2 linked regions of the Homo sapiens genome follow. The protein of the gene in region 1 interacts with the protein of each later gene in a biochemical or structural test. Each region holds a gene or a part of one and is shown on either strand. Other genes may lie near its edges.

Evidence for each region.
Region 2: the proteins of GPC1 (region 1) and VEGFA form a complex in vitro, tested with the Homo sapiens proteins (one study listed by BioGRID).

Annotation. Positions count from the first base shown.
Region 1 is NC_000002.12:240,462,994-240,466,799, reverse strand, and holds part of GPC1 (glypican-1 precursor), read right to left. Parts: intron 3,454-3,806; coding exon 3,288-3,453; intron 2,185-3,287; coding exon 2,054-2,184; intron 1,945-2,053; coding exon 1,825-1,944; intron 1,724-1,824; coding exon 1,590-1,723; intron 1,328-1,589; coding exon 1,152-1,327; intron 743-1,151; coding exon 510-742; 3' UTR 1-509. UniProt on the Homo sapiens protein: Cell surface proteoglycan that bears heparan sulfate. Binds, via the heparan sulfate side chains, alpha-4 (V) collagen and participates in Schwann cell myelination.
Region 2 is NC_000006.12:43,780,025-43,783,718, reverse strand, and holds part of VEGFA (vascular endothelial growth factor A, long form), read right to left. Parts: intron 2,988-3,694; coding exon 2,916-2,987; coding exon of another isoform or gene 2,865-2,915; intron 1,764-2,864; coding exon 1,632-1,763; intron 1-1,631.

The sequences.
Region 1 (3,806 bases):
TCTCAGAGGCTCTGCCAGACCCTGGATGGCGGACACCCAGACAGCCCGTGCGGGGCTTCTCTGGAGGCTGGGGGGTGGGCCAGGGCTGGCTGGTGGGCTCTGCTGGGAGTCCCAGTGGGAGGAGGCGGGGAGGAAGGCACAGGCTCGCTGTGGGCTCCAGCGGGTTGCTTTGAGGCCTCCTCTGTAGGCCTCGAGGGGCTGCTTCTGCGGCGGTGCAGGGAGCTGGGGGGAGGGCTAGGCAGCCGGAGGTGCCCCTGAGGTCCCTGAAATACATGGCTTTTGGGCACACTGGCTCCCAGCTGACCTGAGGACCTCATACAAAATTAAAAGGCAGAAAGGCAGGCGAGGCCAGGCCTGGGGCTGGGACCTCTGCGCCTGCCCCTGCTCAGAGCCGCCGGCCCTCCCTGTCCCACCCCAGGCCTCTCCAGGCTGAGGTGAATTAAATATCGTCTGTGTTGTATTTTTGGCAAAGTCAGTCCTTGGCCTCTGTCCCTGGGGCCTTGGGGCAGTTACCGCCACCGGGGCCTGGCTACTGTAAGGGCCAGGAAGAGGAGGAGGGGCAGGAGGAAGGTCGGGGGCTGGGGGCAGCTGGCAGCCGAGGTCTTCTGTCCTTCCTGCTCTGACAGGCCTGGGAGGGCATGGGTCAAGGGCGTCCGGGAGCTGGAGCTCTTCCTGCTGACCTTCCGGCTGCAGAGGTCATCCAGACAGCCATCACCGCTGCCCGAGCCGCTGCCGTCGTCACCTGGGAAGGAGAGGAGGCTCCGGCAGGCAGGTCCCCACAGGAGACCCCAGTGCAGCACCACCCTGTAAGGGCCCGTGCCAGGTGACCCCAACATCCTTTCGGTGTGGAATCCCAGGACCAGCAGCACCTGATCCCCGCTGACCCCTGAGGCTGGGAGACTCTCACTCCCTGGGGCTGCCTCCCTTGGTCCCTGGAGCCAAAGCCAACAGACATCCCGGCCAGGCCTCCAGGGCGCCGCAGAGGTGCAGGGCTCGGTGATCGTGCCTGGGCAGCACAGCGTCCTCAGACTCACTGTGGTGATGCCGGAGCAGAGGGCCCCTCGGGTGGGGGAACCCGGAGGGCAGTCACACCCCTGTGGCACCCCCACCAACCCTGGCCCCTTGGCCGCCCGGCCAGGCCCTGCCCTCACTGGCGTCCTGGAAGTCCACGTCGTTGCCGTTGTAGGCGCTGCGCAGCCGGTTGGTCATGATCTTCAGCTGCATGATCTGCTGCCGGATGGTCATGTCCGGCTTGGTGATGTCCACCTCCACCTCGGGGTTGTTGATCTGGTTGGCCAGGCCGTCACCCATGACCTCGGGGAGGTACCTGGGGGAAAGGCAGGCAGAGCCCAGGTCACTGCTCCAGCCCCTGCAAAGGGCCATCACCTGAGCAGGACACTCTCCCACGCTCTGAGCCTGAGATGCCCAGCAGCTTCCAGGGACCGAGCAGAGCCCACACAGGCCGCAGAGAAGTGGGGCTCAAGCCCTCCAGCAAGGGACGTGGCCCCGTGCAGACAGCACCTGGCCCAGGCACAGCCCAATGGAGGCGGCATGGGAGGGAGGGCTGTGCCAGCCAGGTGGGCACCTACCGGCCTCTGGCCATCCCGTTCCAGCAGCGGTCATCACTGGCAGTGCTCAGGGCCATCTTCTCACTGCACAGTGTCCCTGGGAGGCTGATCCAGAAGTCCTGGACGTCGCGGAGCTGGGCCTTGGCTTCGGAGACCTGTGGGGCAGCAGTCAGGCCACTGGGCTGCCAGGGCCCGCCCGCCTCTGCCTGTCTGCCTCCCTCATGCCTGGTCCAGTGGACACGCAGGGGCCACTCACCAGCTTCTCCAGCGTGCCTGAAGGTGGCCTCTCCCGCGGGGCCAGCTTGCCCCGGCGCCGCTTCTCCTCAGGCCCGGGGCCCTGGGGGTTGACCTTGGGGTTCCCGCAGCCCTGGATGACCTGGAGAGACACTGCAGGGTCCTTGGGGGGTAGTGGGGCCCCTCAAGCCCAATGGGGCCACATCCAGGACCCCCACCCCGCTGTGCTCGTCACGTCCTCCTGCCCGCACCTTGGCCGTGAGCGTGTCCCTGTTGTCCTGGAGGGCGTTGATGGCCTCCGCCAGCCACGTGTGCACGCTGCCGATGACACTCTCCACACCCGATGTACCCCAGAACTTGTCGGTGATGAGCACCATGGAGTCTAGGACAGGCGTTAACACGCGGACACACAGGCGTTAACGCGCGCACACAGGCGTTGACACGCACACGCAGGCGTCACCACGTGTGCATGTTAATGCAGTCTTGACAGCACGGGTCAGCATGGGAGATCCCACGTGTGCACTCAGGTTGGCCCGTGTGACATGTGCAGGCCACGTGCACTCAGCTTGGCCCACACCCACGTGTGCACCTGTGCCACGGGCACAGGTGAACACGCACATACACAGAGGCCATTCTGCATGCTTGCTGGCCTGCCGTGTCTCGTATGTCCACGCTGGCTCATGCAGGTGTTGACATGTACATACGCTGGCTCACCTTGGTCCAGCTTGTGTGCACATGAGCCCGTGTGAGCTGGTGTGTATGCATGCTGGCTTACCTCATGCCCCCCCCATGTACACCTTAGTTCATGTGTGTGTTGCGTGCACGGTGAGCACATGTACAAGTAAAGCTCATGCATTTTGTCAGCTCCCATCACGTTAGCACACACCTGTTGGCCCCGTGTCAGCACATGCTAGCACGTGTTGGCACAGATGCATGCTGTCCCCCCTCATGTAAGCATGTGTACATGTTAGTGGATCTGGATAAGCATGTACATATTACCACACACGTGTTGGCATTGATGCGGGTCAGCCCAGCTCATGTCATCACATGCGCCCAGGAGCACACGCTGTACTGGTGGGCACTGGCCCACTGTGTGTCAGCAAGTGAGCACGCCAGTTCGCATGTGTCAGCCTGTCATGTGACGGTGCATGTATGTGTTAGCTTAAACAAGTGCCGGTCCTCGATGAGTCACACGTGTTGGCATGTATGCACACCGAGGTGCTTGCTAAGTGGGGAAGGACAAGAAACTATGACCCCACAGGGCTCCCTCCCTGGCAGCTGCCCCAAGTCACACATCACTCAGGACATTCAAAAGGCACCCTGGCCCCTCAACCCTGCAGCACCACCCAGATCTGGCCCGGGTCAGGGCATCCCTGATCAGGTCCCTGGGTCCAAGCTCTAAGCTAGGGACCACCCGCCCCCCAGGACCCCCAGTCGTGCACTCCCCAAGACAGTTCCAGGCCGCTCTCGCGGGTGGGGGCTCACCCAGGAGGTTCCTCCACTCGGCGTCCAGGTCGGCCTGGTTGGCAAGGCAGCCCTTGAGCACATTTCGGCAATAGTCAGGGCAGGGCCTGGCGCCGGGGACTCCCAGGCAGTGAGCACAGTAGACCAGCTTCATGACAGCTCTCGAGCACTCCGGGCCCAGGGGGACCTGGGGAGCAAGGGACCCTAAGCCAGGCCCCGAGGCCCTGGGGGTGCCTGGCCCCGGCCAGCCCCTAACGAAGCCCCAGGGTAGGGGGCTCTGGAGGGAAGTCAGGGGAGGCCTCTGCTCTGCCCCAGCTCGTGGTGGTCGCTGCCTGACTCGCAGGGCCTGCCAGCCCAGACGGCCCTCATTTTAATGATCTCGAGGGTCACAGGGAGGCAAGAATATCCTCACCCGCATGCCGCTGAGGAAACCAAGGCATGACTTGCCCAGGAGCCTGGAGGTGGGGGCAGTTCCCACCCAGGGCATGTGGGTCTGAGGCTGACGCCCTCCCTATGTCCCAGCTTAGCTGGGTCTGACAC
Region 2 (3,694 bases), on another chromosome or scaffold:
CCCTTCTGGGGAGCCCCGAAACGGAGTCCTAAGCCTCCAATTTTGGAAACTGATATTCCCAGATACAGCCAGCTTGGGGGTTGGGTAAAGGTATTGGGAGGTTAGAGTAACTTCAGTTAGCTCCCAGGTCACTTCACACAAACCCCCATCAGCAGAATAATCACCTAAAAACCCTAAAATGTCAAGTCCCTTATCTTTCCCAAGGACCCCTGGGGAACTGAGACTCCCCTCATCCAGCCCTGAAGTTAGGCAGAGCCCCCACCCCAGCACTAATATACGCCCTCTTGGTTTCACATAGGGCCAAGACAGACAGCACCCCACACCAACTACCCAGGCCTGGTTCCCAGCATCCCCTGAGCACACACAAGCCACAAGAACATTGCTGGGGGAGGGGAGACACTCCAAGGACTTCCCTAACACAGCCTCGGGGTGAGCTGGGGGTGCCTTGGCCCTGTCTAGGAAATCCCCACAAAGTCTTGCCTCCCTGACTGACGCTTACCCTGACCCCCAGGGCCTCCCTCACTCTGAGCACAGGCCAAGTTGGTATAAAGAACATAAGCTAAGGCATTAAAAGATGCCAGCCACCTGTCCCGACCCTGTGCTCCTGACCTCACCCTCTGAACTGAGTCACACATTCACTCATGCACTTGACACTTCCTTGGTCCCCAGTATGGGCAAAGGAAAGAGGTACAGATGCCCGGGGCTCACAAAGGTACGTAAACGAGGCCCGGGCTTACGGAGCTCACAGGCTAATGTCAGGAGAATGGGCACAGACCCCTCCCTCCACGCATCCTGGGGGCACTTGAAAATGTGTGGGCTGCTTGGGGTTGTCACCATGACTGGTGGAGGATTAAAGGTATCTAGTATTCTTGGATGCTACAGCTCCTTCAGTGTGTAGGCAAAAGTGCCCCATCCTAAACGAACAGCCAGACCCCTTGCCCTCAGAGCCCCAGTCTGAGGAGGGAGACATAGCCCTGGCCTGAGGGAGCCTCAGTCTGAGCGGGGAGACAGCCCTATCAGGGAGCCCAGGTCGGAGGGGAGAGACACAGCCCTACCCTCAGGGAACCTCAGTCTGAGTGGGGAGACACAACCCTTTCCTCAGGGAGGCCCAGTCTGAAGTGGGAGACTCAATTCCTTCCCCCAGCAAGAAACACTGAGTGAGTGAGAAGCCCAGCCATGCAGACTTCAAAGGGCCGAGGCAAGGCCCCAGCGAGAGCATCTGTGCTTTGTTGACATTGTCCACACCTGGAATCGGCTTTCAGCTTCTCAGCATTACTACCAGAGGTAGTAATAACATCAGGACCAACAGCCACTATGAGCAGAAGGACCACAGGACACAACACACAGCTTGCGTCCACACCACTACACTAAGCCACACCAGCCTACCACTCAGGCAACCAGGGCAACCTCGGAACAGGCCCCGCCAGGCTGGACCAGTGCCTGCAGCCCACCACAGGGGCCTTAAAAGCAGAGAAGGCAGCAGTCACCAGGCAGGCAGCTAGAAACTGAGCAAGCAGCTGGCCCCTCTCAGGCGCTCTCCCGCTCGCTCGCTCGCTCACTCTCTTTCTCTCTCTCTCTCCCCATCTCTGTGTGATGCCCCTCTCTGACTTGCTTGCCCTCTGGGAACCAACCTGCAAGTACGTTCGTTTAACTCAAGCTGCCTCGCCTTGCAACGCGAGTCTGTGTTTTTGCAGGAACATTTACACGTCTGCGGATCTTGTACAAACAAATGCTTTCTCCGCTCTGAGCAAGGCCCACAGGGACTGCAAAAAGGCAAAAGGAAAGACATCTAAGCTAGAGCATCAGCAGAGAGAGAGAAAAAAAATCACCATGCAACACCCCCTAACATGTCCGCAGCTGCACCCCCACCCAGCCGGTCAGCCCCCAGGCCCTGGAAGGATCCGAGCGCTACAGCAAAAGACAGAGAGAGCGGCGGAAAGAGGCAGCACTGGCTAGGACACCTGCCGCAGGAAGAGGCGGGCACAGACGGGCAGAGAGTGCAGGGAGAGGCTGCCATAAGGGGCAATGCTGTGTCTCTGGGAGACAAGGGTGAGTCTCAGGCCACAGGGACCCAACTGCTGTTGCCCCCATCGGAGCACGCCTTGACTCTTCACCTGCTGGGGATGGCAATCAGGGGCCACCTTCTCCCCGTGCAAGGCTCATGTCCAGGCCCTTCCACCAAGGTGGGCTAAAGTAGGGTGTGATGGGAGGCTAAGCCCGGAGGCGGTGTCCCCAGGCCAGGCCGCTGGTGGCCAGAGGGCCCAGGGCAGGGCCCACCACAGCCTCCGACCCAGAGGAAGAGGCTGCCCTGCAAGGAGGCCTCTGTGGGTGCCATGGGTTGGGCCGGAATAGGGGGCTCCCCTCCAGAGGCCCCACCTCCGTGAGGAGCCAGGGCACTTCCACCAGATGAAGGGAGGCCGCCACATGGTGTCTGATCCCACCCAAGCTCCTCCTTCAGCCAAGGAGTCATTCAGCAAGCTGCCTCCAGTCATTCACAGCCCTTCTTGGGCCATGTCTGCCCTCCCCACCACCCTCAGCTTCCAGACGAGTGCAGAAGCCTAGAGCAATGGAAACCAGTTGGGTGAGCAGGCACCTGTGCCAACATGGGCCCGCCACCAGTGCCCAGTGGGTGAGAGAAAATCGGTGCCCAGCCAAGCCAGGGTCCCCTCCCTTAATCCTCCAGGCCAAGTCGGCACCCCCATTCACCCCAACCCTGGACCAGCAATGCCACCACCAAATCTACCCGTTGGTGCCAATTAGTGGAGTGAGAGAGTGAGAGAGAGACACGGGCCAGGAGGATGAGAGCCAGGGAAGGACCAGGGGAGGGAGGCAGGGTTACAGGGAATGGCAGGCGGAGGTTGTACTGGGGGCCAGGGAGGCTCCAGGGCATTAGACAGCAGCGGGCACCAACGTACACGCTCCAGGACTTATACCGGGATTTCTTGCGCTTTCGTTTTTGCCCCTTTCCCTTTCCTCGAACTGATTTTCTGGAAAATAAAAAAACAGAGACAGAGAGAGAGCGGGGGCGGTGGGGGGAGTAAAAGAAGTGGTAAGGTGGGCAGGGATGGGGGAACGACCAAAGCAAAGCCACACAGGGCCGCTTCCCGGAGGAAGTGTCAGGAGGCAGGTGGTCTCTGGGGAGGCATGCGCGGGCGCACACAGGCGTGTCTGGGCAGCAAGCACTCGATGGCTCTTTCTTCTCCTCACGCTGCCCACCATGGGATGGCAAACCCAGCCCCTGACAAGGCTTTGGTGGGAAGCCGAGACTGGGTGGAGGGCACAGGACCCAAAGGTCTCCACACTCACAGTGGCTCCCAGTCCCCGGCAGGGGGCAAAGCCTGAGGGAAGGCTCTTTGCCCAGCAGCCCTGTCCAAGTCTGACCCTGAAGGTCCGGGGGTGATAAAAGGTAGGCCAGACTTTGGGGAGAAGGTCAGAGACCTGCCTGGATGGGGAGCAGGAGTGGGAGGGAGGGCTGTGTATCAGGCCTTGTGCCTTCATTTGCAACTGCGACAGAACCTCTGGGAATCCCGGTGTGGGGGAAGCGGCTACCTTGGGAGCTGGCACGGAACCAAGAGCAACACCAGCCTGCTCAGCACGACCTGGACTGGGAGGCAGGGCTGGGTGTCCTGGAGCCCTGGGCAGGCAGCAGGATGGGGTGGGAGTTAAGGAGGTCTGGGGAGGAGAGGCTTGGGCG